Linked DNA regions of Homo sapiens: regions 2, 3, 4, 5, 6 and 7 are each linked to region 1. The links come from fine-mapping of genetic effects on gene expression. A gene starts in region 1. Each other region holds a variant in brackets. All regions are shown on one strand. Distances are between the middles of the regions. Region 1 holds the start of NSMF (NMDA receptor synaptonuclear signaling and neuronal migration factor). Region 2 holds the start of EXD3 (exonuclease 3'-5' domain containing 3). Region 3 overlaps EXD3 (exonuclease 3'-5' domain containing 3). Region 4 overlaps PNPLA7 (patatin like domain 7, lysophospholipase). Region 5 holds the start of TUBB4B (tubulin beta 4B class IVb). Region 6 overlaps ENTPD8 (ectonucleoside triphosphate diphosphohydrolase 8). Region 7 overlaps EXD3 (exonuclease 3'-5' domain containing 3).

Region 1 (4,060 bases):
TGGAGGGGCCGCAGGACAAGAAGGGCGGGTCCACTACCCTCCATGCTCCATCCAGGGCCCTGCGCTTGGGCCTTCAGCCAGTGGCCTCCTCACAGCAGAACTGGACATTCTCCTGGGAGACGTCTTCATGGCTGCCGCAGGCCGAGAGGGCCCTGGGCAAGGCAGCCCCTATCCACAGTTGCCAGGTCTGGGGTGCTGGAGCCCTCAGGGTGCTTGGCTGACAAGGGGAGGAGTGTCTGCCCGCTCCTTGTCCTTGTGGAAGACCCACGAAGTGATGTGCTGGGGCAAAGCTGGAGCCAGACAGAACCAGGGGTGGTGTGCAGGGCTGCCCTGGGACCAGGTGGCTGCGTGTAGGGCCCCGGGCCACCTTGGAGGCGGGGGTGGGCATCTGTGGCCGGTTCTGCCTCTGAGTGTGGCTATGCTGGGTACGGTCCCTTCCTTGGGAGGGGACTGACGCAGCCCTACCCTCGGTGCCAGACGAATCTGACTACCAGACGGAGTACGAGGAGGAGCTGCTGGACGTCCCCAGGGATGCATACGCAGACTTCCAGAGCACCTCAGCCCAGCAGGGCTCAGACTTGGTGAGGAGCTGGGCATGGTCCCACCTGGTGCCCACAGCTGAGCCTTGGTGCCTGGCCCTGTGCCGGCCACTCCCTCCCTGTGGTCCCACCGGGTTACCAGCGCTGCAGAGCCCCTGCCCTGCCTGGTCCTCACCTGGAACATGCGGTCTGCTTGCAGGAGGACGAGTCCTCACTGCGGCATCGACACCCCAGTCTGGCTTTCCCAAAACTGTCTGAGGGCTCCTCTGACCAGGACGGGTAGAGGCCTCTGCTAAAGAGCCCGGATGCAGCGTCTTCCGTGGGACTGTCCCCAAGGCTGAGGCTCCTGCCAAGTCCTAGGGGCCTCTGTACCTGCCCTGCTGGAAGCCCTGACTTCCCCGGGGCCCCAGGCTGTGTTAGGGTTCTCTGGGCCTCTTCTTTGTACCAGCAGCCCTGCATACAGGGCCCTGTGAGCCCCCCTGCAGTCCTGTGAGGCCCCTGAAGCTCTGTGAGGCCCCTGAAGCTCTGTGAACCCCCTGCAGCCCTGTGAGGCCCCCCGAAGCCCTGTGAGGCCCCCCGAAGCCCTGTGAACCACCTGCTGCCCTGTGAGGCCCCCAAAGCCCTGTGAACTGCCTGCTGTCCTGTGAACTGCCTGCTGCCCTGTGAGGTGTGGGAGCCCTGATGCTGCCGTGTGATGTTTCAATAAAGGTGGATCTCACTGTTGGACGTGTCTCCCGGGCCGAGGTCCCTGTGGCAAAGAAACACTACTGGTTCTCCCTGATGCGGGTGGTCCCTGAGGCTGGGCAGTCCCCAGTCCTCCTCAAAGGACCCCACTGCTGGGGCCTGAGAGCCCTAGGGCGGCAAATGCAGGCCAGGCAGGTAGGGCGTCCAGAGTCTGCATAGAGCTGTGGCCCCCCAGGACCAGGACGGGCCCCTCTGTCTCTCTCTGGCCTCGTGCAAACTGGGTGCCCCCTAAACTGGCTTCCCCTTCGGTTTCCAGTTCCCAAACTGCACAGGGAGCCCTTTTGTGTAAGGGGAGGGAGAACCGGCCTCCCTGTGATCCTGCAGGTCTGAGCAGCAGATCGTGAGGGCCGAGGGCCCAGGACTTTGCGACCAGGGGGCCGCTGGCCTCAGTTTCCCCGCTCTGGAGGCCTGGACGAGAGGGCGCGGAGCCAGGCCGCCCGGCCCCGCCCCCAACTCAACCCGGGCCCGGACGTCACGGTGGGCGGGGCCACATGTCCTCTCCGAGCTCTCCGGGGCCCTGACGTCACGGTAGGTGGGGCCGACCGCCCCTCTGGGCCCGCCCGGGCCCTGACGTCACGATGGGCGGGGCCGGCCCTCGGTTCGGGCAGCGCTCTCCCGGGAGCGGCGGCACGCGCGGAGCGCCGGGTGCGGCCATGCGGGGACCGGGCCCGACCCCGAGCCCGACCCCGAGCCCAAGCCCGAGCCGGAGCCCGAGCGAGACCCCGAGCCCGAGCCCGAGCGCGACCCCCGGTGCGGCGCGGCTACCCCGGCGGAGGCGGCGGGCGCGGGGCGCGCTCTGAGGCCCGGGGGATGCGCCGCCGCCTCGACCATGGGCGCCGCCGCCTCCAGGAGGAGGGCGCTGAGGAGCGAGGCCATGTCCTCGGTGGCGGCCAAAGTGCGGTGAGTGCGGCGGGGCCGCCTTCCCGCACCCCGCCCTGGACCTCCGACCCCGCCCGAGTCCGCCCCTGCCCCGCGGTGCTCCCCGGGCTCCCGGGCCCCGGCCTCTGCCACTGAGGCGCCCTCCCCGCGCCCCGCGCCTCCCTCTTCCTGGTCCCCTGCCCTGCTCTTCCCTCCCCTCCCCTCGCGAGCGCGTGGTGGGCGAGCGCACCCCCCAGGTCGGGAGTGGCCTCGGTTCCCCCGGGGAACAGCAGCCGACCGGCCTCGCGACCCCTCTCCACGGTCCGACGGGCAGGGGCCGGGCCTGCAGGCCTGGCCAGGGCGCACCAGGACCAAGGGTGTGTGGGCTCCCGGAGGGGGACGACCCCGACCCTCCTTCCAGACGCCGAGGGCCTGGCTGGGGACCGGACCCCCGGCTCTTGCGCGGCCCGGTGTTTGGGAGGGTCGTGCCGTGGCCTCTGACCGTGCCCTCTGTCCACCCTCAGAGCAGCCCGAGCGTTTGGAGAGTACCTGTCCCAGAGTCACCCTGAGAACCGCAACGGCGCAGGTAGGGGCACGCGAGGCCGTGCCAGGGCCGCCCAGACCCCCCAGCCCAAGGGATGCTGATCCCTGCCTCCGGGGGTGGAGCGTGAGGGGCATTGGTTGCGCGTGGGCCCGGCGCCCTGCCGGCCTGGCTTCCTTACATCCCCTGCCCTCCCTGCCCGAGCCCCAGGAGCAGTTCCCAGCCGCTCGTCACCATGGCACCCACCCCGCCTGGGCCGTTGGCATGGCAACAGGCCTCCTGGCTCCCCCAGGGCTGGCACCACTGCCTCTGGGGGCCAGCTGGTGGGGGGAGGGGGAAGTTGGCACCAGGCAAACGGTGCGATCGCAGGCTGGGGGATGGCCTGCGTGTTCCTACCCGGCAGGACCGCACACAGGTAGCACAGCGTCACCCAGCCCCCACGCACATGCTAGAGCTTCAGGCCCAGATAGGAGTGAGGGGCTCAGAAACACGCCAGTGACTAGGGTTTGGGCAGCCCTAGTCCCCCACAGAGGCCAGGTGCCCACTGGGTGTTCTCTGCCTTCGGCCTGCTATGAAACCGGCAGCGGGGGGCCCACACGCGGCAGGCAGGCTCACTCAGTGTCTCTCCTAGATCACCTGCTGGCTGATGCCTACTCTGGCCACGACGGGTCCCCCGAGATGCAGCCGGCCCCCCAGAACAAGCGCCGCCTGTCCCTCGTCTCCAACGGCTGCTACGAGGGCAGCCTCTCAGAGGAGCCCAGCATTAGGAAGCCCGCAGGCGAGGGCCCTCAGCCTCGAGTGTACACCATCTCTGGGGAGCCTGCCCTGCTGCCCAGCCCTGAGGCGGAGGCCATTGAGCTGGCGGTGGTGAAGGGGCGGCGGCAGCGGCACCCTCACCATCACAGCCAGCCCCTGCGCGCCAGCCCTGGTGGCAGCCGGGAGGACGTCAGCAGGCCCTGCCAGAGCTGGGCGGGCAGCCGCCAGGGCTCCAAGGAGTGCCCCGGATGTGCCCAGCTGGCTCCTGGCCCCACCCCTCGGGCCTTTGGGCTGGACCAGCCACCTCTGCCTGAGACCTCCGGTCGCCGCAAGAAGCTGGAGAGGATGTACAGCGTTGACCGTGTGTCTGGTGAGGGGTTTGTGTCAGGGCATAGACAGGTTTGGGGGTGCATGCCGCTGCCAGGGTCTGACAGCAGCAGCCACTGTGAGGCTTGGAACAGAGAACAGGTGCTCAGGTCACAGCATGCCAGCGGACTCAAGATTAAAACCGGCAGGCTTCTGCTGCGGCCTCCACACCCTATGAGCTGTGAGCTCCCTCAGCTCCTCAGCAAAATCTGCCAGGCCTCACAGTCCGCTTTCGCCCTGCTAGCACCAGGTCAAT
Region 2 (4,060 bases), 37 kb after region 1:
CCGGCCTCTCCCGGTGACCGCCGCGCCCCCCAGCGCGGCCTCGCTTAGCTCAGGTGCGGCCCCCCTGCTCGGCTCCCACCTGCCGGGGCGTTCGCTGGGTCGGGGGCGGCAGGGCGACCCCGTGACGGTCGGGGAGGGGCGCTGGGCCCTCCCCAGGGGCTCGAGGCGGAGGCGTCGCCCGCACCGGCCTCCCCACGCCCCGCTCACCCGCAGCGCGGCCTCGGGGTCCCCGGCCAGCAGGTGCACGCAGCCCGCGTTGAAGCACAGCCTGGCGGGCGGCGCCGGGACGCCCGAGAAGAGGTGCAAGGCGCGGGCCCAGTCCCCACGATCCACAGCCTGCGCGCCCAGGTGCCAGGCGCGCACCAGGTCCCCCAGAGAGGCCATGGCGGCCGGTGGCGGCGCTCGAGGAGGGGCCAGGATCCCGCGGAGGGGCCGGGGCCGGGGCCAGGCGGCGGCGCGGGGCTGCGGGGTCTCCGAGGCGGGCAGAGGTGCGGGCGCCAAGCGCCAGGTGCAACCCCGCTGCCCCGCGGCGCCCCCTGGCGGCAGGCGCCCGCCCCTCCCCGGTAAGGCCACGCCCCCGCCAGAAACGGCTACGCCCACTCCAGACCCTCAGGCCTCGCCCACCTCCCATTCGGCCCCCGCCCCGGCCGGACTTCCGCCGGGAGCTTTGTGCGCCCGGCTTCCTCGCCCCGCCCGCGCTGGCCTTGGTGCGCCGGATAAAGCCCTCCGGGCCAGCGGCTGCGGTCGGGCCAAGGTTCCGCGCCGGGCGTGGACGGTGTGGGGCGGTCCCGGCCCCGCAGGTGAGCGACCCCGGGCCGCGCGGGCCAGGTGGGCGGTCTGGGCGCCGGGGGCAGAGCGGGGCCGGGCCGGGTGCGCGTCCTGAGGTGAGGGCCGTAGCTGGGAGTGAGCCGGGGGCGGGCCGCCGGCTCTCCCGGGGTGGGGAAACTGAGGCCCCGATGGGGCGGGGAAGGTGCGTTCTCCCGCAGGGCCCCGCTCCGGAGGCCGCCGAGCAGCCGGACGCCGCGGGGAGCTGAGCCGACCCCGGCGACCCCGCCGCCCTGTCCCGCAGGGCCTGCCCTCCTCCGCGCCTTCCGAGCACGGACATCACAGGACCCGGAGGCCCTTCGCTCCCTCGCCGAGGAGGAGGCGCTCCCGGTGGGACGCGCGCGCGCCCGCCCTGCCCTCCCCGGGAGAAGGGACGGGCGCCTCCCTGCAGGGGCCCTGGCTTCCTGTCCACCGGCGCTGAGTCCTGTATTAGTTGTCAACCTAAAATAATTAAAAGGGTCAGAATGTGGTGCCCGGTGGGTTTATTCAGGCACAGAGGTCGAGGGCGGCCTGGGTCACCAGGTGCAACGGAGAACAAAACAGAGGCTCAGGTTTTTAAAGAAAACAGAGCCCATCGGAGAGCAGGTGGTTTCGAACGTTGCCCAGGAGCTCACTGGCTTGTAGAAATGGCATTGGTTCGCGATTGACCACGGCTTGGTGTCATCAGTGGATAGTTACTTGGCTCGAGGGGTAGTGAGGGGCTGCGGTTTCATTTGAAATGCTTTCTGGCACTTAACATCAAGCTTTCTGGGCCCACAGTTTAAAAGGGCTTTACATTCCTCAGATAAATGATTTTTTTCTTTCTCATTTGCCCCCCTTTTGATCAAAATCTTTCTTCTTGAAAGCATTGATTATCAAAATCTGAGGGTCAGAGTGTCCCCTCTTGCTGGGAAGGCTCATTCCCACATAGTCCTGTCCCATGCCAAGCAGGGAAGGAGGAGACATTTCAGGGAGTTTTTTTTTTTTTTTTTTTTTTAAGAACACCACAAACTGAATTGGAATGGCATTACAGGGTGGCAAACATGAGGTCTCAGTGAAGTCATTAATTTATACAACTGCTGTCACCTGTTGAATCATCTCTAGTTTTTAGAAACACCATTAATTTTAATTT[T/C]CTCAGAAGTAACACATAGGACTATAACCAATTTGTATGCCAGGATGAAAAAAACAAACCTGTTCCATTAGGGAGACAACTAAAAACATGAAGAAACTAAAATCCATGTTCTTCTTTCTTTTTATTTATTTGTTTACTTAGAAATGGGGTCTTGCTCTGTCACCCATGCTGGAGTGCAGAGGCACGATTCCCACTCATCGCAGCCTTGAACTCTTGGGCTTAAATGATCCTCTTGTCTTAGCCTCCTGAGTACCTGGGAATACAGGTGTTTGCCACCAGGACCGGCTAATTTTAAATTTTTTTGGTAGAGACTAGGTCTTGACACCTTGCCCAGGCTAGTCTCGAACTCCTGAGCCCAAGTGATCCTCTCATCTGGGCCTCCCAAAGTGCTGGGGTTATAGGTGTGAACCTCTGCCCAGCCAGGTTCTTCTTTGAGACTTGTAGCCAGAAGATTGTTCAGGATTTAGTCCAGATTGTAGGAAAATAAAAAATACAATGATCAGGGCTAGAATCCAGTAACAGGTATGCTGTAGTTTTTCTCTGAAACATAATTTTTCTCTACTTCCCCATTTCTACCAAAGATAAATCTTGGTAAGACCAATTTACTTGTAAAATAAATTTTAGGATTATATTTGGCCTGATTATTTGCCTAAAGTACAACAGTGGTGATTGGCCATATAGGCTCCTTTCTAAACTGGCTGGAACTTTGCCATAAGGAATTTCAGACTTTTTTTCCCCACATCAGACAGGTAATGTGCTGGCGTCATAACAGCGTTTGAAGGAGACAGACCCTACACATGAGGCAATCATCATGCTTATGAACTACAAGAGGGTCAGAATAGACCTTTAAAAGCCACTTGAGGGCTGGGCATGGTGGCTCATGCCTGTAATCCCAGCACTTTGGGAGGCCAAGGTGGGAGGATTCATTGAGCCCAGGAGTTTGAGACCAACCTGGGCAACATAGCGAGGTCCCTGTCTCCACAAAAAATTTAAAAATTACCTGGGCATAGTGGTGCTCACCTGTAGTCCCAGCTACTCAGGAGGCTGAAATGGGAGGATCGCTTGAGTCCAGGAGATTGAGGCTGCAGTGAGCTATGATCGCACCACTGCACTCCAGCCTGGGTGACAGAGCGAGACCCTGTCTCTAAACAAAACAAACACTTCCCATGTCTAGGAAGCCAAGCCAGTGGCTCCCCATCACAGTGTATGTATAATACCTGTATGAATTTGGGGGGGGGGGTGAATGTCTGTCCTCCAGGTCCCAAACTATCTTGAAGTTCCTGGATCTGTCGGAAAGTGACATTCTTTCCTTACCTCAAGGCCAAGAACCTTTTAAGGGAACTATGTAAACAGGGCACCAGTCCAGTCATCCCAAGGGGCTTTTTATTGGCTCTATAAAGCGAACCTCGATTCCTCAAAGCAGTCTCGTCATATCCAAAAATACGTCATCCCAGTCCAAGCCTTGGTAGAATAACCAGGGTCTCCAATTGTGTCCTGTTACAAGGACAACAGATTCTTACTGAACTCATGCAAAGAACTACATTGCCATAAAATAAGAATACTCATGAATCGCTTCCAGATTTTTGAGAAATCAGGTAGAGAAAAAGACAAATATTTCAGTTTTGCTCACAAAAGTATATGTCACTCAATTGCTATAGCTATAAATAGCTCAAAAAGAAAAAGGTTTTCTGACTCTGGAAAACAAAATATAAAAAGAGTCAGCAAGGTTTCGATAACAACAAAAAATCATAAAAAGCATTTCAGGCCTCTATCAGTTCAGTTCTATGTAATTTGCTGGGGTTTTTTTTGTTTTTTTTTTAGGCGGAGTCTCCCTCTGTCGCCCAGGCTGGAGTGCAGTGGTACAATCTCGGCTCACTGCCAGCTCCGCCTCCCGGGTTCACGCCATTCACCAGCCTCAGCCTCCCGAGTAGCTGGGACTACAGGCACCTGCCACCATGCCCGGCTAATTTTTTTGTATTTTTAGTAGAGATGGGGTTTCACCGTATTAGCCAGGATGGTCTCGATCTCCTGACCTCGTGATCCGCCCGCCTTGGCCTCCCAAAGTGCTGGGATTACAGGCATGAGCCACCGCGCCCGGCCGCTTTTTTCTGTATGATGTTGGGT
Region 3 (4,060 bases), 76 kb after region 1:
TCTTTTGTTTATTGTGAAGTGCAACCCATGTGTAGGAAGGAACGCAGAGCACATGATGCGGCTCGGCACATGATCGTGAACACACCACAGCACGCCCCGCCCAGCCCACCCTGGCCCCATCGCCAGCCATGCCCAGCATGCAGCACCCAGAATGCGGGGCCAGTCACACTGCCTGCCATGGCCACGTGGTGGGGTACGTCCTCCCCACCTGGGCATCGTCCCGGGGCTGATGCACTTGCTCCGTCCTCCTACAGTGGACATTTGAGTGTTCTCAGCCTCTGTATGCAGCACACTGTGCACGATGGTGGGACGGTTCTGAGCGCAGACGGGAACACTGGCCTGTGCCACCCAGGCCCAGGTGGCTGCAGAGACGCCATGGTGGAGCCTGGGCGCCCCACGGTGTTTTATGGTTTTTTGGTTTTTGTCTGAGACGGAGTCTCGCTCTGTTGCCCAGGCTGGAGTGCAGTGGCCCGATCTCGGCTCACTGCGACCTCCGCCTCCCGGGTTCATGCTGTTCTCCTGCCTCAGCCTCCCGAGTAGCTGGGACTACAGGCACCCGCCACCATGCCCAGCTAGCTTTTGTAGTTTTAGTAGAGATAGTGTCTCACCACGTTGGCCAGGCTGGTCTCGAACTCCTGACCTCAAATGATCCACCTGCCTCGGCCTCCCAAAGTGCTGAGATGACAGCCGGCTGGGTTTTGTTTTGCATGAGCTGCTTTTGTTACATTTCTCCCAGGGAATCTGACATTGCTGATGCTGTTGTAAGTGATTTTTGAAATGGCCATTTCTGTTTATTGCTGATTTTCTCATTTTGGCTTGTGCTGAGCATTGATGCCGAACCCATTGGTTAATTCTAACGGCGTAGTTTTGATCCTTCGTGGCTTTCTGTGTAATCAATCACATTGTCGGCCGGTCCTGATGTTTCTGTTTTCCTTCTGCATTGGATGCCACCTGCTTGGGACGGCTCCAGGCCGGGCTGTGGCATCCTTACGTGCTGCCCTGAGCACCACGTCTCACGCTCGCCCATGGCTTTTACCCAGTTCAGGGCGCTCCCTGCCCGTCCCAGGTGAGTTATTTCTTAAATTGTGAGCTGAACTGAATTTTAGAACACTTGCTCTGTGTCTACCGAAAGGGCCACGTGGTTCTCTCCTCCGTTCCGGTCCTGGGCTGAATCATAACCTTGGACTCTCCTGTTAAGTCAGCCTGGCTCTCTGGGGTGACCCCCGTCACACACGCTTCTCTGGCGTGTGTGGCAGAATCCAGCTGCTGAGGTCTGATCTGATCTCATGTGAGTCCTCAGCCTCCCTCGCAGCAACACGGGGCCTTCCCTGTTCCCGTCCTGCCCTGCAGGGGGGCCCAGCAGCTTCCACAGCCCCCCAGGTCCAGGGGGAGTTCACTGCGGAATCCACCCAGGCTCCTGTCCTCAGGCCTCCCCTGTGGAGTCCCTGCTGGCACCTGCCCCTCCCTGGCCTCCGACCCTGACCCTACCACATGACCAGGCCTGAGTGGGTCTCCACTCCCCTGCACCACCGGCCTCCAAGCCAAGCCACGCAGCCCCTGGGTTCTGTCTGGAAACCTCCCTCGGGTCTCGCTCTGGTGGCCCTGTCCGTGTGGGGCAGCGTCTTTGGTTGGCACTTTTGCTGCAGTGAGGTCGGGGGCCTCCCAGGCGGGGCTGGAGGGAGGGGGCGGCGCGGGAGGGCCGGGGACCGAAACCTAAAGAGGGCAGGGGCTTGGGGTCCTCGTGGTGCCAGGACTGCGGTGCAGGGTTTGGGTGAGAAGATGCTGATGAGGTTGCCGAGGGCGCCAGGCGGAGCAGGTAGAGGCTCAGGCCCACGAGGGCTGCTCTGCACCTGCAGCTGAAAGATGAGGCCCAGCTCCCAGGGCTGAGCGTGGTTGAAGTGCTGCTGGGCGGACTCAGCTGGATGGGCGGCCACGGGCCACAGGGAAGGAACAGGGTGGGTGCTGCCGCAGCTGGCAGGTGTGTTGTGTGTGTGCCAGACAGAGGTGGGGGAGGGTTCCCGGCCCCCCGGGTCCAGAGGAGCCCCAGGCATTGCGGGTCAGTGGGAGGGACTTCCCGGCGGGCTGTGCGATAGCCCCTGCACCTGCCTCTCCCTCCCACGGCTGTTATCTTATCTCCACAGGCC[G/A]GGACCCCCTCCTGCTCCTGCAGGCCCTGCAGACCCTGTGGTCCACGCGGGAGCGGAAGCAGGTGAGTGGACGTGGCAGCCACCACGTGCCAAGTCACAGCCAGCAGAACTGACTGTTGGGCAGAGACTGGCCTAACAGGAGGCCTCCCTGGTCAGGAAGCTGCACAGCCCCCCACGGCCACAGGGTCCTGCACAGCTGCTGCCCCAGACCGCCTCCAGGGTGGCCTGTGTGGGGCAGGGGGCGGTCCTCCTCAAGTCCCCAGGGTGGTAAAGGCACTGCCTGGCCCCAGCAGCCCCTCTGAGGTCACCTCTGGGAGGCGCAGGGGCCACTCACCTGCAGGGACACAGCTGTCGCCAGCACTGCCAGGCCTGAGGCCCCGTCCTGCCACCGCCAGAGCACCCAGGCCCGGGTGGCCACTGGGGCAGGTGTCCAGGACAGGGAGGCCTTAGGAAGGGGTGGGACTTGAGCAGGGCAGGAGGCTGGGCGGGAGAGGCCAGGGGAGAGGCTACAGAGGGAGGGCCGGCCCCCTGTGGGGGCAGACGCGGATTCCGGCTCCTTAGTGGCAATGGCCTGTGCACAGGAAGCTGCCAAGTCCTGAGTGCCGCGTCCTCTGGCCCGAGGTCGCTCCTGCAGGTCCGGGGGACGCCCTCCAACCCCAGCCCAGCTCCTCTGAGTGCCACATCCACTGGCCTGAGGTCACCCCTGCAGGCCCGGGGGATGCCCTCTGACCCCAGCCCTGGCGCTGCCTGCTCCTGTGTCTGCCTCTCTCCTGCACCCACCTCTGCCAGCTTTCGTTTGTCCATCAGCTCGGTGGCTTCTTGGGCCTCCAGCTTGTGAATCTCTGTCCTTGCTTTTGAGATTTCCCTCTGCCGTTCCATTTCCAGGCTCTCTTGTCGGACCTTCGTCTGTGACGCTCAGTCTTCCTCGCTCTTTGGCACCTGCGTGTGTGGTGTGAGCCTCCCCGGGTCCCGCCCTCTGCCCCCCGCCCCCCACGTGTCTGAGTTGTGGGATTCCACTGTCCTTTCCTCCCTATGTCCTGACATTCGTCCTGGCGTCTCCTTGGAGCAGCGCTTGTTTATACACAGACAGGGCTGAGATCTGCTCCGGGCTCCGCTGACAGCCATGAGGCCGTCAGGCATTTCATCTTCATGGGGTGGGCCTGTGTCTGTGCCCTCACCTCCTCCGCGCGCCCTCACCTCCTCCGCATGCTCCCACCTCCTCCCCGCGCCCTCACCTCCTCCCCGCGCCCTCACCTCCACCGCCGCCCTGACCTCCACCGCCGCCCTGACCTCCACCGCGCGCCCTCACCTCCTCCGCGCGCCCTCACCTCCTCCCCGCGCCCTCACCTCCTCCCCGCGTCCTCACCTCCTCCCCGCGTCCTCACCTCCTCTGCGTGCTCCCACCTCCTCCCTGCGCCCTCACCTCCTCCTCGTGCTCTCACCTCCTCCTCGCGCCTCCATCACATTCCCGGATTCCAGCAAGCTGGCGAATGCCACATGCCCAGTGGCCCTGGGTGGGCCAGGAGCCTTGAAGATGGGGTCCTTGGGGGTCCTGGGTGCTGAGGAGAAGCCCAACCCTAGAGCCGGCTGCACATGGAGGTCTTGGGGACCCCCATATGGTGGCACAGACGCCGGGTGCCCCCAGAGGAGGGAGATGAAGACCAGGATTTTGGAGAACTCCTTGGGGCGGTCTGCAGTATAAAGGGGGCAATGGGACTGTTGGCCGTCTGGGAGGGCTTAGGTGTTCCTCTAACGTGAGAGAGGAGCCAGCACACCGGGCGGGTGAGAGCAGCCTGGGAGACGGGCAGGAGGAGGAGGCAGGGCTGGGGCGGGGTGAGGGCCTGGAGTAGGCGCACTCCCAGAGTGGGGCTCCCCTGGTTCATTGGGCCCTTCCCAGCCCCACTGCCCAGCAGCCT
Region 4 (4,060 bases), 40 kb before region 1:
AGACGCTGCCGAAATGTTTCCAGTGAAGTCCATGCCCAGAGCTGATCAGGTCGGCGGATGGTCTCCCGGCTGAGCCTGGTGGCATCGTCCGCTCTGGGCCCAGAGCTGCCCCCGTCCTGCCCGCGGCCACTCGCGGCGCCTCCTGAGCCCTCTCGTGTGTCAGGACGCCAGCATCCTGTTCGTGGTCTCGGGGCTGCTGCACGTGTACCAGCGGAAGATCGGCAGCCAGGAGGACACCTGCTTGTTCCTCACGCGCCCCGGGGAGATGGTGGGCCAGCTGGCCGTGCTCACCGGGGAGCCTCTCATCTTCACCGTCAAGGCCAACAGGGACTGCAGCTTCCTGTCCATCTCCAAGGCCCACTTCTATGAGTGAGTCCCACGGGCCAGGACCTCAGGGCGGGCCCCAGCCCCCCCTGCCCTGAGACCCCTCCCCGCGTGGCCGGCCTCTTCCTGGTGCTCTCACCCTCTTCCCTGCTTCTCGGGCTCCCCTCTTTGTCCCCGGCACCTGTGTGGGCCCAGGTCTGTGCCCCCTGCTCCAGCGCTCAGTCAGCCGACCCCACCTGCCCGCAGCGATCAGCTTCGCACGGCCGTCTCTGTGGTCTGGTCCCAGCTGTGTCCATTTATCACTGGTCTGTGGTCTGGTCTCAGCCGTGTCCATTTATCACTGGTCAGTTCTGGGGCTCCCCAGCTTGGCTCAGCAAGGCCCACGTTGGGGCAGGGCCGGGCTTCAGGGGCCGTGAGCCGTCCCACCTCTGCAGCCTGGGCTGACGTGTCGGGAGCCAGTGATGCGGAGGTGGAAGGGCAAGGCAGTGGGTGAGGACGCGTCTCTGGCTCGGGGGAGGAGCCCCACTGACGTGTGTCCCTTCTTGGGGCAGAATGTGCCCGTGTCGCCTTCCAGGCTCCGGGCTGGAAGACATCTGTCCACTTGACCCCAGCCCGTAAGTCTCAGATTTGGCCCCTCCAGGCCCAGAGCTGCCCTCGGCCCGCCTGTGGCTGCCTGGCAGAGCCGCCACGTCTTTGCATCCACGGCACTGGGCATTCTGCTCTGTCAGGTCCAGAATCTCCTGGAGCCTGGGGTTCAGTTTAACCCCAGCTCTCGCCTCTGGTGGCTTGAGCCGTTCTGTGTGTGTTTTCTGGAAGTCCTCCGCACCCTCATAGGCCAGATGTCTGCTGTGGTCTCAGAGCTCTTCTGCCTGAGTGGTTGGGCAGCAGGAGAGGTCAGAAGCCTGAAGGTCAGTGGAAGCACAGCAGCTGAAGAAAACAGGTCGGCTGGGTGCAGCGGCTCACGCCTGTAATCCAGCAAATGGCACCGCGCCGTTGCTGCTTCAGCCTGGGGACCCCGAGCCGGGCAAGGGGCAGGGGTGGGGGCAGCGGGGCCCTGGCCCAGTTGGGAAGGGCTTTCTGCATGGCCTCTGTCTTCCAGGCCTGGCCTGAGTGGCTCCAGCCAGGTCCCGATGCCGGGTGCCCTGACACCGCAGCGTGCTGATGGGGAGACTGAGGCTCCAAGTCCCGGTCCCTCCACCAGCAGGGGACCCTGGGTGGAGCTGGACCCATCTCCCTCCTGAGCATCCCCAGCTGCTCCAC[A/G]TCAGTGCCAGGGAGATCAGGACGGATGGCGAAGAGCAGGGACAGGAACCACCCAGGGCAGAGCTCAGGGCCCTCAGCCTTAATGCAGCTCAGTCCCCCCGTGCTGTGTGTCTATCTGTGTGTCTGCGTGTGTCGTGTGTCTGCGTGTGTCTCTGTGTGTCTCCATGTGTCTGCATGTGTCCGTGTGTCTGTCTCTGTGTCTACATGTGTCCATGTGTGTCTCCTTGTGTCTGTGTGTGTCTGTGTGTCTGTGTGTGTCTCGGTGTGCCTGTGTGTCTGCCTGTGTCCGTGTGTCTCCGTGTGTCCGTGTGTCTGCGAGTGTCTCTGTCTCCGTGTGTCTGTGTGTGTCTGTGTGTCTGCCTGTGTGTCCGTGCATGGTGTGCCTTGCAGCCGTCACCCCAGCCAGCATCCCAGGGCTCCTCCTCCACCCCCAGGGCTCTAAGTGCCACGCTCACGCCCTTCACGCCCTCACCCAGCCACTGTCTTGCCATCTCCCCAGCTTCCCCCACCTCCTGTGCAAAGCAGATCCTGATTCCACGTTTGCTCTTCCTCCTGCTTTTGCCTTCTGAGGAAATGGCAGCTCCACCTGCCTGTGGCTCAGGCTAGGCCTGGAGTCGCCCGGCGTCACTCTCACACCTGGTGCAGGTTGCCCCACGTCCCACCTCGCCACTGCCCAGAGCCCCTGGGCACGTCCCTGCTGCAGCCCTCACCCTCGACAGTCTGTCCACACACGACCACCGGGGAGAGAACAGTGTTCCCCGGGTCAGAGGCCCCAGCCACCCTCCACCCACCCAGGAGAGACCCTGTGCTATCCAGGCCCCATGGGTCTCTCAGCCTCTGCCTTTGCCTGCTGGTGCCCTTCACGGCACTCACTGCCAGCCACACCCACGGCCCGAGTGTGCATTATGCAGCTCCTGACGGCATGTGCAGTCCCCTGCCAGGACCGCAGCCTGACACAGGGCCCGTGTCCAAGGGGCACTCGCGGGCCTGCCAGGAGGGGGCTCTCTGGGCTCCCCAACAGCTGCTGGCCACTGGGCACGTGGTGGGCAGTGCTGTGCCGTGGGGCAGGCAGCTGACTGGTGCGTGCCCCGTCCCAGCCCCTGCCAGTGGTCTCTCTACTTTCCGGGTGGGGTGGGGGTTGTGGGTCCCATCCATTCCCGAGCACTGCGGCCCTGGGCGAAGGGTAGGGTTGGAGGGATGGGGCAGGATTGACTCTGGGCTGCCCGGCAGAATCATGCGGAAGCAGCCGACCGTCGTCCTGGGTGTGGCGCACACTGTGGTGAAGAGGATGTCGTCCTTCGTGCGGCAAATCGACTTTGCCCTGGACTGGGTGGAGGTGGAGGCCGGGCGAGCAATATACAGGTGAGGCCGTGGGTGCCACACACTCCGCATCCATGCTGCCCTGGCATGCAGGAGCTGGGGATGGGCAAAGCACGGTTACCGTGGAAACCACACACGGAAGTTACTGTGGAAACCACACATGGAAGGCTGGATTTCCCCAGCCCCACCCCAGCTTAGCTCGGAAACACACTTCGTGGCCTCCTGGATTTCATGACACCCACACACGCTTGGACATAGTCCATGTTCTATGAGCATCTCTCCGTGTCATTATATTCAAGTCCACACCGTCCCTTTAAAAGGGCCCCATTAGCTGGGCGTGGTGGCTCACGCGTGTCATCCCAGCACTTTGGGAGGCCAAGGTGGGTGGATCACAAGGTCAGGAGTTTGAGACCAGCCTTGCCAACATGGGTGAAACCCTGTCTCTGTTAAAAATACAAAAATTAGCTGGGCGTGGTGGTGTGCGCCTATAATCCCAGCTACCTGGGAGGCTGAGGCAGGAGAATCACATGAACCTGGGAGGTGGAGGTTGCAGTGAGCCGAGGTCGTGCCACTGCACTTCAGCCTGGGCGACAGAGCGAGACTCCGTCTCAAAAAATAATAATAATAATTAAAACCAAGACAATTTTAGAATATTCATTTAAAACAACCCAGGCCTGTTAACATAAATATTTTAAAATAAAAAATATGTTTTCCAAAACAAAAATAAGATAGTGAGAAGCCTGCATTTTCTTTTTCTCCATCCTGAGTCTGTCTGGCATTGGGAAGCTGGGTGTGGAGGCTGAGGCTGGGGGCCCAGGGCTGCAGGGCCTCTGTGTCTTCCGCAGGCAGGGGGACAAGTCCGACTGCACGTACATCATGCTCAGCGGCCGGCTGCGCTCTGTGATCCGGAAGGATGATGGGAAGAAGCGCCTGGCCGGGGAGTACGGCCGAGGAGACCTCGTCGGCGTGGTAGGTGCTGGGCCCTGCTCCTGCCTCCCCCACCTCTGCATCCCTCCCAGAGCATCCTGGGTTCTGGCCTGGGTGTGGCCTGGCCAGTTACTTGGGAGCAAAAGCCCCAGGAGTGGATGGTAGTAGTGATGCCCCGCAGCCGCTTTGCTGTGAGCCCCGGGCTCTGCCTCCATTGGGGGGACTCCCC
Region 5 (4,060 bases), 220 kb after region 1:
CGTGAACTGCTCGGAGATGCGCTTGAACAGCTCCTGGATGGCCGTGCTGTTGCCAATGAAGGTGGCGGACATTTTTAGCCCCCGAGGTGGGATGTCACAGACAGCCGTTTTCACATTGTTGGGGATCCACTCAACAAAATAGCTGCTGTTTTTGTTTTGGACATTAAGCATTTGCTCATCCACCTCCTTCATGGACATGCGGCCCCTGAACACGGCGGCAACCGTCAGGTAGCGGCCATGGCGGGGGTCGCAGGCAGCCATCATGTTCTTGGCATCAAACATCTGCTGGGTGAGCTCGGGCACGGTCAGCGCCCGGTACTGCTGGCTGCCCCGGCTGGTCAGTGGGGCAAAGCCGGGCATGAAGAAGTGCAGCCGGGGAAACGGGACCATGTTCACAGCCAGCTTCCGCAGGTCAGCATTGAGCTGGCCTGGGAAGCGCAGGCAGGTGGTGACCCCACTCATGGTAGCAGACACCAGGTGGTTCAGGTCACCATAGGTGGGCGTGGTCAGCTTTAGGGTTCTGAAGCAAATGTCGTAGAGAGCTTCGTTATCAATGCAGTAGGTCTCGTCTGTGTTTTCTACGAGCTGGTGGACTGAGAGGGTGGCGTTGTAGGGCTCCACCACTGTGTCTGACACTTTGGGCGAAGGCACCACACTAAACGTGTTCATGATCCTGTCTGGGTACTCCTCCCGGATCTTGCTGATGAGGAGGGTACCCATCCCAGACCCAGTCCCCCCACCCAGGGAGTGGGTCAGCTGGAAACCCTGCAGGCAGTCACAGCTCTCAGCCTCCTTTCTCACAACATCCAGCACCGAGTCCACCAGCTCCGCGCCTTCTGTGTAGTGCCCCTTGGCCCAGTTGTTCCCAGCACCACTCTGACCTGTGAGAGAACACAGCTAATCATTTGTCAGCCAGGTAGACAGCACTACTGGTCACCGCCATGCGAAAAAAGCCGAGTGACATGGTGTGAGCTGACCACAGAATTCACCCTGGAGGTAGAGCAAACGGACCCTTCAAAGCCAAAAGACGGCAGCCTGCCCTGCTACGAATTAAGTCAGGGGCCAAACCTGACAGCTTAACAAACCCCTCCCCGGGGGGGCCACTGCCAATTCCCAAGGACAGAGGAACAGCCACTGCCCCAGCTCAGCTCCCTGCAGGGAGATTACGTGTGTGGCGGCTCCTCGCCTCGGCAGACAGCTGGACCTTGCTCCCAAAGCCGATTTAGTAGAGGGGATTGAGTGGCTCAGAGAAGAGGAGGGCGTCCAGGGGCCCCGGCTGCGCAGTTCCCACGGCGGTGCCCTTGGAGCAGCCCCTTGACCTTTGAGCCGCCGCCCAGTCCCCAGCCACGGCTCACCGAAAACGAAGTTGTCCGGCCGGAAGATCTGCCCGAAGGGCCCCGAGCGCACGGAGTCCATGGTGCCGGGCTCCAGATCCACGAGCACGGCGCGGGGCACGTACTTGCCGCCTGCGGGGACGGGAGGGCGTCAGCCAAGGCAGGGGCCGCGGGGTCCCCGGAGGGCGGTCGGGGAAGGGGCCGGGGCCTCACCGGTGGCCTCATTGTAGTACACGTTGATGCGTTCCAGCTGCAGGTCGCTGTCCCCGTGGTAGGTGCCCGTGGGGTCGATGCCGTGCTCATCGCTGATCACCTCCCAAAACTACAAGGGACGCGGGCGGGCCCGGGCGGGCCGGGGCTGAGTCACCGCGGCCGGTGCGCAGGGAGGCAGCCCCGCCCCGGACGGGCGCGGCAGCCCGGCCCTCCCCGCCCCTCCCCCGCCCCGCGCGCCCTGGCCGCCGGGTTCCTGGGGGCTTCGGTCGCCCGGCTCGGCCAATTCCCCGCGGAGGGGGCCCGGCGGCCGCAATGCGGGGGCGCCGCCCGGCCGCTGCTGCCGCCATCTTCCCCGGCCGCCCGCCCACACCGCCCGGCAGGCCCGCCTGGCCCCAGCGCCCCGGCAACTTACCTTGGCGCCGATTTGGTTGCCGCACTGCCCGGCCTGCAAGTGCACGATTTCCCTCATGATGGCGGCGGCGGCGGCGGGGAAGCAG[G/T]AGGAAGTAGACAAACAGCAGCAGAAGAGCGGGCGCGCAGAGTGCTACAACCGACGCTCCGCCAACGCTTATATACCCTCCCTGCCCGCCTCCGCTAGTCTCGGAATGGGCTGCCAGAACGAGGCTGGCAAGCTCCCTCGTTTGATTGGCCTTGCCCCCGTCAATCAAGCTGCCTAAGGTCCGCCTTTTTAAGCCAGTTTGGTCTTTATTGGTCAGCCGCAGCCTCCTATCTCCCTATCACAATCCCCCTCCTGGCGCCGCAGTGCTCCGTCCATTGGGTGTTTCAAATGATTGATTTGCCGTCTCATTGGCTGGCTGCCGGGAGCACGCCGCCAGGCTGGCGCTATTGGCTGCGCTGCTTCAGCGTCCTGGTAACCGCCGCAGTGCCGCGGCCGGCGCGCGGACGGGGTGGGGCGCAGGCGCGAGTGCGGGCTTCCGGTCGGGCGGCGGGCAGCTGCGCTGGGGGCGCCGAGGGAGGGCGGGCCCGACGGGCCTCGGGCAAGCGCAGTCTTGGCTCTGAGCCCGGGGCCTTTCGGGAGCCGGGAAGGGCAGGCTCGGTGGCGGCCCCACGTCCAGAGTTGCGCCCTCTCTGGCCTTGCGCCGGGACACGGCATCTGCGCGCTGGGCGGGTTCTGGAGCGGGGTCCGCACGGAGCGAGCCCGGGGCCTCCAGGCCGAGGAGGCTGCGATGCCTTAAAGGCAGGAAGATACACGGGCTCGGGGGCTGCGGCGGTGGAGGGGAGCTCTCCACAGAGCCGCAGAGGCCACGGAGTTTCCTGCTCCCGGGTGCCGCACGCCCACTGCCCTCGCGGTCGCGTGAGGGGAGCACGTGGGGGACGCCGCGCCCCGAGGGCCGGGGCGGAGGGCAGGGGAGGGGAGCGGAGGGGCGAGGCCTCCCCCGCAGCTGCGCGCCCTGCCCTGTTGTGGAGACGGCGCTGGCTCTGCGCCGGTCGCCTTGGTGCCTCGGCCCCGTGAGTGCGCGAGCTCCGTGGAGACCAGGACAGCGCCCAGACCTCCCTCGGCGGGTGGGCCCCGACCTCCGGGCTCCAGGGCCGGTATTCCAACCACAGGTCAGCGCGCTGGGGCTGAAACATACTTCTGTTAATGCTTTTCCTAATTTATGACTTGATTTTTACTTGGGTGGGAAAAGAAACTTAAAATGAATTACATGTGGTTGCGCCTGTTTAAAAACAAACGGGCTGTATTTTTGCAGCATTTTTATTTTACTTAATTTATTATTCTGAGACAGAGTCTCGCTCTGTCTCCCGGGCTGGAGTGCAGTGGCGCGATCTTGGCTCCCCGCCCCCCCCCAGGTTCAAGCGATTCTTCTGCCTCAGCCTCCCCAGTAGGTGGGACTGCAGGCACCCACCACCACGCCGCTAATTTTTGTATTTTTGGTAGAAATGGGATTTCACCATGTTGGCCAAGCTGGTCTGAAACTCCTGACCTCAAGTGATCCGCCCGCCTCGGCCTCCCCAAGTGCTCGGATTTACGGGAATGAGCCGCCGTGCCTTCTACATTTTTGTAGCTTTTTTCTTTTTTTTTTGAGATGGAGTTTTGCTCTTGTCGCCTAGGCTGGAGTGCAGTGGCGCAATCTCAGCTCGCTGCAACCTCTGCCTCCCCGGTTCAAGCAATTCGCCTGCCTCACCTTCCCAAGTAGCTGGAACTACAGGTGTGCACCACCACGCCTGGCTATTTTTTTTTTTTTTTTTTTTTGAGACAGAGTCTGGCTCCGTCGCTCAGGCTGGAGTGCAGTGGCATGATCTCGGCTCACTGCAACCTCCATCTCCCGGGTTCAAGCGATTCTCCTGCCTCAGCCTCCCGAGTAGCTGGGATTACAGGCGCCCGCCACCACGCCCGGCTAATTTCTGTATTTTTAATAGAGATGGGGTTTCACCATCTTGGCCAGGCTGGTCTGGAACTGACCTTGTGATTCATTCGCCTCGGCCTCCCAAAGTGCTGGGATTACAGGCATGAGCCACTGCACCTGGCTGTATTTTTGTAGCATTTTAAATAA
Region 6 (4,060 bases), 21 kb after region 1:
CTGGGGGTCTCAGGTGGCTACATCTTCTGGGTGTGGAGTCCCTGTGTTCCTGGCCCCTGTCACCTGTTTGTCCCTATGAGGTGGCCTATGGCCTGGGTGCTGGTTGGGGACACAGGCTGGGCCCTGTCTGGGCTGGACCGGCCTCCTGTCCTCTCTGAGCCTCTGTCATCTACCCTCCTTAAAATGGGCTTATATCCCCCGGACATACAGAATTGCGTGAGGACCCCACAGCGTGTCCCACTTTCCACGTGCCCAGGAGCCCCAGGTCAGGACCAGGGCAGCACCCGCGCCTGCCACTCAGTGTGGGTGCAACGTTTCCCGGGGGAACACGATAGGACACGGTCACATGGGGTTCAGGTGCCGGGACCTTGGCAGGCAGCCTCTGGCTTTGACCACTCCTTTGGCAGTGGTACCCGTGTGAAGTGGGGCTGTATGGGGCACAGGGTCGGCCTGGGGTAGTTTGAGAGCTGAGACCCTTGCTGGGCGTTTGGGCAGAGGAGGAGGTGGACACCTCGGCCACAGGGCTAGAGAAGCCCAGGCCCCTCAGATGGCATCCCTGGGTCCACCTCCCGACCAGGCGCCATCTGGCACCAGCTAAGAAGGTGCAGAGTCAGATTAGGGAAGCCTTGGGCTGGATTTCCAGAGAAACCGATGTTGTTAAGAAGCCTCACACTCGGCTTCCTAGGATGGCTGGCCTCACCCTGGGTTCACCCACAGCCCCTCGGCAACAGTCCCCTCAGGGCTCCAGAGAGAAACCCCCACCCTAGGAGTGCCTGGGGTGGGGGCCGCAGAGAGGAGGCAGAGCCCTGGGCCCCCAGTGCAGGCTGGAGCTGTGGCTGCTCCTGGGGAGGGTGGCACGGGAGAGGCAGGACCGAGGGGTGGGGACACAGGGTGGCCCCATCACATGGTGGGGGCAGCTCCGCGAGTCCCATCCGAGGGGGTCCGAGGGGGCTACTTGGATCCTGCTGGGGCTGTGTCCCCAGACGAGGCCTCTGCTGCCCCCCGCCCCCCTCCCACAGGGCCCTCTGATGCCCATGGCACCCCTGGCAGGCGTGGCTCCTGGGGAGTGGTCCTTGGCCACGGGAGGCGTCTGAGCCCCGGGGATGCCTCTATGGCCACGGGAGACCGTCTGAGCCCCGGGGATGCCTCTATGGCCACGGGAGGCCGTCTGAGCCCCGGGGATGCCTCTATGGCCACGGGAGGCCGTCTGAGCCCCGGAGATGCCTCTATGGCCACGGGAGGCCGCCTGAGCCCCGGAGATGCCTCTAAGGCCACGGGAGACCGTCTGAGCCCCGGGGATGCCTCTATGGCCACGGGAGGCGTCTGAGCCCCGGAGATGCCTCTAAGGCAAGTGGCTGTCCAGGGGTGCGTCTCCAGGGAGACGGGGAGCGAAGCCTCTGCCTCTGGAGGGCGGGATGGGGACACCAAGTGCAGCCTGGGTGCCCACGGCCGTCCCCCCACAGGAACCAGTACCACCTGCACCATGGGGCTGTCCCGGAAGGAGCAGGTCTTCTTGGCCCTGCTGGGGGCCTCGGGGGTCTCAGGCCTCACGGCACTCATTCTCCTCCTGGTGGAGGCCACCAGCGTGCTCCTGCCCACAGACATCAAGGTGCGTCCCCGCCGGCAGGGGAGGCCGGGCCGGGTCCACAGGTGTTGCCTCCCACTCATCCCACTGTCTCCCCAGTTTGGGATCGTGTTTGATGCGGGCTCCTCCCACACGTCCCTCTTCCTGTATCAGTGGC[T/C]GGCGAACAAGGAGAATGGCACGGGTGTGGTCAGCCAGGCCCTGGCCTGCCAGGTGGAAGGTTAGTGGGCTGTTCTGCAGCCCGGTGCTGGGACCTGCCTGTTGCTGCCTGGCTGGGATTCCCAGCTGCACGGAAAGGGTTTGGAGAGGTTCAGTGACTTGGCTGAGCTCACACGCCGGGCATGGGTGCTGGGCCGGAGCCTGCGTTCACGCGGTGGCACTCTGGGGACCTCCCTGCCTGATCCTGGTGAGCAGTCAGATTCTCATGGCCTGGCCTGGGTCTGCCCAGCATCTGCTGCCTCCAGCCCTGACCCTCTCTGGCCCCTGGTGCTCCCCACCCTGGCACCACGTGGTGCTGGCAGCCGAGGCTGGTAGTTACAGGGGTGCCTGCACTCCAGGATCCTGAGAGGGGAAAACAGGAGGCCCCGAATTTGTTTCCTGGGGGCTCTGGTAACAAATTACCACAAATTGGGGGCTTAAAACAGTAGCAGCTTATTTCTCAGCATTCTAGAAGTCTGAAAACAAGGTGTGGACAGGGCCGCACCCCCTCCAGAGGCTCTGGGTTAGGGTCCTTCCTGCTTCCTTCAGCCTGAGCACTCCACGCAGCCCTTGGCTGGTGGCTGCACCAGGGGGCATGAGGTGGTCATGTCTTTGGGGGCTACCTTTCAGCCCAGCCAGCCTGCGGGGTCTGGAGCTCTGTCCCCGGCTGCTGTTCCAGGGCCTGGAATCTCCTCCTACACTTCTAATGCTGCACAGGCTGGTGAGAGCCTGCAGGGCTGCTTGGAGGAGGCGCTGGTGCTGATCCCAGAGGCCCAGCATCGGAAAACACCCACGTTCCTGGGGGCCACGGCTGGCATGAGGTTGCTCAGGTGAGGCAGGCATGGCCTTGGCACCCACGGGGAGTGGCTGCAGAAGCCATGGTCTCAGCCAGCGTGGCAGGCAGGGTGGGGCCGGGCCCAGGCTTCCAGCCAGCTCCAGCCCCTGGTCCTCTGTGCCCAGCCGGAAGAACAGCTCTCAGGCCAGGGACATCTTTGCAGCAGTCACCCAGGTCCTGGGCCGGTCTCCCGTGGACTTTTGGGGTGCCGAGCTCCTGGCCGGGCAGGCCGAAGGTGCCTTTGGTTGGATCACTGTCAACTACGGCTTGGGGACGCTGGTCAAGGTGCCACAGGCTGCCTGAGGGCGGGGGCTGGTCTGCGAGGGGCTGGTGTCTGGGGCTGGCTGACCGGGACGGGGTCCGGGTGGCTGCTCCCAGCTGAGTGGCCCCTTCTGTGCCCAGTACTCCTTCACTGGAGAATGGATCCAGCCTCCGGAGGAGATGCTGGTGGGTGCCCTGGACATGGGAGGGGCCTCCACCCAGATCACGTTCGTGCCTGGGGGCCCCATCTTGGACAAGAGCACCCAGGCCGATTTTCGCCTCTACGGCTCCGACTACAGCGTCTACACTCACAGCTACCTGTGCTTTGGACGGGACCAGATGCTGAGCAGGCTCCTCGTGGGGCTGGTACAGGTCAGCTGGCCCTGGGGAGGGTGCATGGGGCTGTGGGAACAGGGCTATGGGCACAGGGCTGGCGTGGGTCATCCGGCCCCGGGGAGGGGGCACAGGGTATGGGCGCGGGGCTGGCGTGGGTCATCCGGCACCGGGGAGGGCGCACAGGGTATGGGCGCGGGGCTGGCGTGGGTCATCCGGCCCCGGGGAGGGGCACAGGGCCGCAGGTGTGCGGCTGGTGCTCAGGCCTCCCTGCCCTCTGCAGAGCCGCCCGGCTGCCCTGCTCCGTCACCCGTGCTACCTCAGCGGCTACCAGACCACACTGGCCCTGGGCCCGCTGTATGAGTCACCCTGTGTCCACGCCACGCCCCCGCTGAGCCTCCCCCAGAACCTCACAGTTGAAGGGACAGGCAACCCTGGAGCCTGCGTCTCAGCCATCCGGGAACTTTTCAACTTCTCCAGCTGCCAGGGCCAGGAGGACTGCGCCTTTGACGGGGTCTACCAGCCCCCGCTGCGGGGCCAGTTCTATGTGAGCACCTACACTGCCCCCACCAGGGGTCCGGGCTTCCTTGTGAGGCCTCAGGTGCCTGTCTGACTCCAGCAGGCCCAGGAGGGGCCCAGGCTGGCTCTTAGGGGCTCTGGGAGCCCGGGTGGGGTGGATCTGGCCCAGCGTGGCCACAGCGAAGGCACAGCCACCTCCCCTCTCACTCAGGCCTTCTCCAACTTCTACTACACCTTCCACTTCCTGAACCTCACCTCCAGGCAGCCCCTGAGCACGGTCAACGCCACCATCTGGGAGTTTTGCCAGAGGCCCTGGAAACTGGTGGGTGGGC
Region 7 (4,060 bases), 66 kb after region 1:
ACACCCTTGGGGGCTTAGCGCCGCCACTGGGGGCTCAGGGAACCCACAGCCTCTTGGGTCTCGGGCGGTTCCAGGGTGGCCTCCAGGGTCCCTAGTTTTTTAAACTGAGGCATTTTTCATCCCTTCGAGTTAAGAAGAACATCTGCCCTCCCAGCAGCTTTTTCAGGTTAAAAAAGAGAAATGAGAGGCACCTTCCCTGTGGGCAAAGCCGGGGAGGCCGCATCCCCGCTCGCTCGGCTGCCCTGCCAGATTCAGTGCTGAGGATAAACAGCCCGAGGGGAGGTGCAGCCTCTCTCCCTCCTGTTCCTACAGATCGAGACCCTGCAAGCTGAAGACTGGGCCAGGGTTAGGGAAGCGGAGGCTGGAAGGCCGGGATTAGGGAAGCGGAGGCTGGGAGGCCGGGGTTAGGGAAGCGGAGGCTGGGAGGCCGGGGTTAGGGAAGCGGAGGCTGGGAGGCCGGGGTTAGGGAAGCGGAGGCTGGGAGGCCGGGCTTAGGGAAGCGGAGGCTGGGAGGCCGGGGTTAGGGAAGCGGAGGCTGGGAGGCCGGGGTTAGGGAAGCGGAGGCTGGGAGGCCGGGGTTAGGGAAGCGGAGGCTGGGAGGCCGGGGTTAGGGAAGCGGAGGCTGGGAGGCCGGGGTTAGGGAAGCGGAGGCTGGGAGGCCGGGGTTAGGGAAGCGGAGGCTGGGAGGCCGGGGTTAGGGAAGCGGAGGCTGGGAGGCCGGGGTTAGGGAAGCGGAGGCTGGGAGGCTGGGGTTAGGGAAGCAGAGGCTGGGAGGCCAGGGTTAGGGAAATGGAGGCTGGGAGGCTGGGGTTAGGGAAGCGGCGGCTGGGAAGGAGTGGAGCTGCCTAGTGCCAGAGGGGTCAGCCCGAGCCTCAGCTGCTCTCTGTGCCGGGGACGGGCTGGGGCGGGAAGCCTCCTGGCAGGGGCTCGGCCCCAGTGGGAGCTGTCCGGGGCCATGGCTTTGTGGGCAGAGGGTGAGAAGGGGGTGCCGGGGCCCCTTCACATCCTTCACCCTGCAGTCCTTGTAAACAGCAGTGAGAGCTGTAAGGCCCTGGCCCAGCCGCCTCGCCCTGGGCTGCAGGCCCTCAGTTTGTTGTGGGTTTACTGCCTTTTCACTCACCGCCCCCTGGCCTTTGCCCAGTTCCACCCTACACATGCCCTGCCTGGCAGCCCCTCCATGGGGCAGGGCCATGGCCCTCCCCTCTGTGAAAGCCCTGCTCCCACATGGCAGCAGCTGAGGCTCTCTGCCTCAGTTTCCCTATCCCACGCAGTTGCCTCCTCGGGCCTTGGACCCCTCCAGGGGCTTCCTCTCTGCCTTCCTCTTCTGTGTCCCAGTGGGTGCTGAGGGCTGTGGGGGCACCTCCGGGCATGTCGCCTTCCCTGATGTAGCCAGGTCAGCGTGTGCTCGGGGAGGGGCCACCTCTGAGCTGGGCGGGGCTTGGTGTGGATGTGGCCCCCTCAGCAGGCACAACCCTGGCTGTCCTGTGGGGCCCTGACCACACACCTGCCCCTCTGGGGATGGGCCCAGACCCCCTCACCCTTCCGTTCATCCACCGCCTCCTCTGAGGCCATCTGCGGGCCCCGGGCCTGCACCTGTGTGGGATGAGGCCCTGTTACCTCCCCTGGAGACCGCCGTCAGGGCCGGGGAGCGCATGGGACCCTGGGTTCGCCTCAGCACAGAGCTGACTCTCCCTGCACAGGCACCCACAGGCTTCTACAGCCTCTTCTCCACCTAAGCAGAGTGGGATGTTTTCAAAGTGCAACACCCCAGCTAGCAGGGCCCCTGGAACAGCCTCGGCGCCCCCTGGAACACTAATGGCCCTCCCTGGAACAGACACGGCACCCCCACCGAGAACAGCCTCGGTGCCCCCTGGAACAGCCTCAGCACCCCCTGGAACACTAATGGCCCTCCCTGGAACAGACACGGCACCCCCACCGAGAACAGCCTCGGTGCCCCCTGGAACAGCCTCAGCACCCCCTGGAACACTAATGGCCCTCCCTGGAACAGATACGGCCCCCCGCCAGAACAGACATGGTGCCCGCTGGAACACTAATGGTCCTCCCTGGAACAGCCTCGGTGCCCCCTGGAACACTAATGGCCCTCCCTGGAACAGACACGGCGCCCCCCCACAGAACAGCCTCGATGCCCCCTGGAACAGCCTCGGTGCCCCCTGGAACAGCCTCGGTGCCCCCTGGAACAGCCTGGTGCTCCTGGAACAGACACAGCCCCCCCAGAACAGACACAGCACCCCCTGGAACAGCCTGGCGCTTCCTGGAATGGCCACATCCCCCCATCCTTTCTGTGCTGCTTTAGGCATCTGCCCTTACATGGTTCGTGTCCAGCTCTGTCAACAAGGCCAGCTCCACAAGAGGCCCCAGCTCAGCCCTCCCCAGTGGGCTCCCCTACTCAGGCTCTGGGTC[A/G]GCTTCTTCCCAGGAGGTGTCCTGGCCCCTGTGCTGGCCCCGCCTCGCTGCCTGGACACCTGTCCGTGCCACCCTGGTCACTGAGCAGGACATCCGCGTCTGTGGCCCCTGGGACCCTGCCCCCGACAGCCAGGCCTGGGTTTGTCCTTTTAGGTAGAGTGCCTGGTCCAGGTCATTGGAGGAGAGTCCACATGGCCACCTCTGGCGTGTTCTAGAGAGGCCCTCCCGCGCTGGGTCAGGAGGCATCATCGGGACAGGAGAAGGGGGCTGAGCTCCTGTTCCTCTCTCCCTCCCCCGAGGCCAAGAAACATTCCCATCCGAATGTCCACTGCGCTCACAGATTCCTTTCCTCCTAAAACTTCAGCCTTGGCCAGGCTCACGGCCAGGATTATGGTGGCTCACGCCTGTAATCCCAGTACTGTGGGAGGCCGAGGCAGGAGGATCACGAGGTCAGAAGATCGAGACCATCCTGGCCAACATGGTGAAACCCCGTCTCTACTAAAAATACAAAAATTAGCTGGACATGGTGGCGGGCGCCTGTATTCCCAGCTACTGGGGAGGCTGAGGCAGGAGAATGGCTTGGAGGCAGTAGAACTGCTTGAACCCTGGAGGCGGAGGTTACAGTTATCCGAGGTTGTGTCATTGCACTCCAGCCTGGGGAACAGAGCGAGACTCCATCTCAAAAAAAATAAAAAACTTCAGCTTTTGCATGAGCAGGCGCAGTTGAGGTCAGAAAGTCCACGTTGCCCACGTCCACCTGGTTCGGGGTTTCCAGGCGGCGCTTGAGCCTTCCTTGGGAAATTCAGAGTCCCACAGACGGCATTAAACTGCAGCTGGGCACCAGGGCCGGCGGTCGGCGAGGCGGGGCGGGGCGGGGCAGGGAGGCCGGCCCTCTGGCAGAGGCAGCAGCTCCAGGAATCACCAGGGCCGGCGGGCGGTGGGGTGGGGCGGGGAGGCCGGCCCTCTGGCAGATGCAGCAGCTCCAGGAAGCCTGCCGGCCTGGGTTCCCTTTCCCTCCACATCCGCCGCTCCTCCCCATCTTGCTGGGCTCCGGACAATGGGAGCCTCCAAGGCTGAGGCTGCCCTGGCTTCCCGGAGGAGACCCATGCCCTACAGCTTGGGCCTGCTGAGGTGCCTGGGGCTGGGGACGTGGCCAGCCTCACATCCAGCGTCCACGCTCCAGACGGGTTCCTCGGCACCCGCCCAGTGTGGACACGGCGGTGAACAGGGCAGGGCCCGCAGGAGAGGCCACTTTTCCTACGAAGCTCCGTGATGAGCGCATGCCGCTCTCGTAATGCACCGTGAACGTGCGGGTTCCTGGAGACGCCTCCCTCTCAGGCCTCACTGGTGGGCTGTGGCTGTGGGTGGACGTGGGGACACCTGAGGAAGGGCGGCGGCCGAGGCCCTGCTGGGAGGGGGGTAAGGAGAAGCTGCCGAGGCTGCCCTGCCCCTCTCCATGCCGAGCAGGCCACCCCCGCCCCACCATGGGTCCCCCAGAGGTGTGGACACCAGATCTGCCTCCAGGACCCTGGGGACGGGCTTGTCCCTGTCCCACGACGAGGTCACAGGCACTTTGTGGCAGCCTCTGAGCCACCCTCACTGTGTCCTCACCCCCTGCCCTCAGCGTCCACTGGCCTTG

The links.
Region 2: its variant is fine-mapped to the expression of NSMF in whole blood (TOPMed, PIP above 0.99).
Region 3: its variant is fine-mapped to the expression of NSMF in whole blood (TOPMed, PIP above 0.99).
Region 4: its variant is fine-mapped to the expression of NSMF in whole blood (TOPMed, PIP above 0.99).
Region 5: its variant is fine-mapped to the expression of NSMF in follicular helper T cells (Schmiedel 2018, PIP 0.95).
Region 6: its variant is fine-mapped to the expression of NSMF in whole blood (INTERVAL, PIP above 0.99).
Region 7: its variant is fine-mapped to the expression of NSMF in whole blood (TOPMed, PIP 0.99).

The regions. Positions count from the first base shown.
Region 1 is chr9:137,457,155-137,461,214 of GRCh38, reverse strand. It overlaps NSMF (NMDA receptor synaptonuclear signaling and neuronal migration factor), which reads left to right and starts at 1,881. Exons shown (of 16, transcript NM_001130969.3): 1 at 1,881-2,183; 2 at 2,666-2,727; 3 at 3,314-3,808. The coding sequence starts at 2,113. It overlaps PNPLA7 (patatin like domain 7, lysophospholipase), which reads left to right. Exons shown (of 35, transcript NM_001098537.3): 34 at 478-581; 35 at 739-1,263. The coding sequence ends at 822. RefSeq lists enhancers at 1-176, 3,000-3,697 and silencers at 1,651-2,000, 2,091-2,360.
Region 2 is chr9:137,419,854-137,423,913 of GRCh38, reverse strand. It overlaps EXD3 (exonuclease 3'-5' domain containing 3), which reads left to right and starts at 752. Exons shown (of 22, transcript NM_017820.5): 1 at 752-800. It overlaps NOXA1 (NADPH oxidase activator 1), which reads right to left and starts at 521. Exons shown (of 14, transcript NM_001256067.2): 1 at 208-521. The coding sequence starts at 384. It also overlaps the pseudogene LOC124902354. RefSeq lists silencers at 291-850, 871-1,010, 1,021-1,160. The variant T/C (reference allele first, on the strand shown) is at 1,937.
Region 3 is chr9:137,381,459-137,385,518 of GRCh38, reverse strand. EXD3 (exonuclease 3'-5' domain containing 3) reads left to right here. Exons shown (of 22, transcript NM_017820.5): 3 at 2,142-2,206. Among named protein-coding and RNA genes, the nearest start is that of EXD3, 40 kb to the left of the region's middle. The variant G/A (reference allele first, on the strand shown) is at 2,145.
Region 4 is chr9:137,497,000-137,501,059 of GRCh38, reverse strand. PNPLA7 (patatin like domain 7, lysophospholipase) reads left to right here. Exons shown (of 35, transcript NM_001098537.3): 16 at 164-369; 17 at 2,815-2,946; 18 at 3,750-3,873. Among named protein-coding and RNA genes, the nearest start is that of NSMF, 40 kb to the right of the region's middle. The variant A/G (reference allele first, on the strand shown) is at 1,585.
Region 5 is chr9:137,239,317-137,243,376 of GRCh38, reverse strand. It overlaps TUBB4B (tubulin beta 4B class IVb), which reads right to left and starts at 2,090. Exons shown (of 4, transcript NM_006088.6): 1 at 1,960-2,090; 2 at 1,548-1,656; 3 at 1,356-1,466; 4 at 1-881. The coding sequence starts at 2,016. RefSeq lists silencers at 1,686-1,915, 2,246-3,065. The variant G/T (reference allele first, on the strand shown) is at 2,045.
Region 6 is chr9:137,435,709-137,439,768 of GRCh38, reverse strand. ENTPD8 (ectonucleoside triphosphate diphosphohydrolase 8) reads left to right here. Exons shown (of 10, transcript NM_001033113.2): 2 at 1,464-1,609; 3 at 1,685-1,802; 4 at 2,460-2,610; 5 at 2,741-2,900; 6 at 3,018-3,248; 7 at 3,493-3,756; 8 at 3,940-4,050. The coding sequence starts at 1,484. Among named protein-coding and RNA genes, the nearest start is that of ENTPD8, 3.6 kb to the left of the region's middle. RefSeq lists silencers at 3,459-3,508, 3,470-3,724. The variant T/C (reference allele first, on the strand shown) is at 1,743.
Region 7 is chr9:137,390,876-137,394,935 of GRCh38, reverse strand. The region is part of intron 2 of EXD3 (exonuclease 3'-5' domain containing 3); the gene reads left to right. Among named protein-coding and RNA genes, the nearest start is that of EXD3, 30 kb to the left of the region's middle. The variant A/G (reference allele first, on the strand shown) is at 2,422.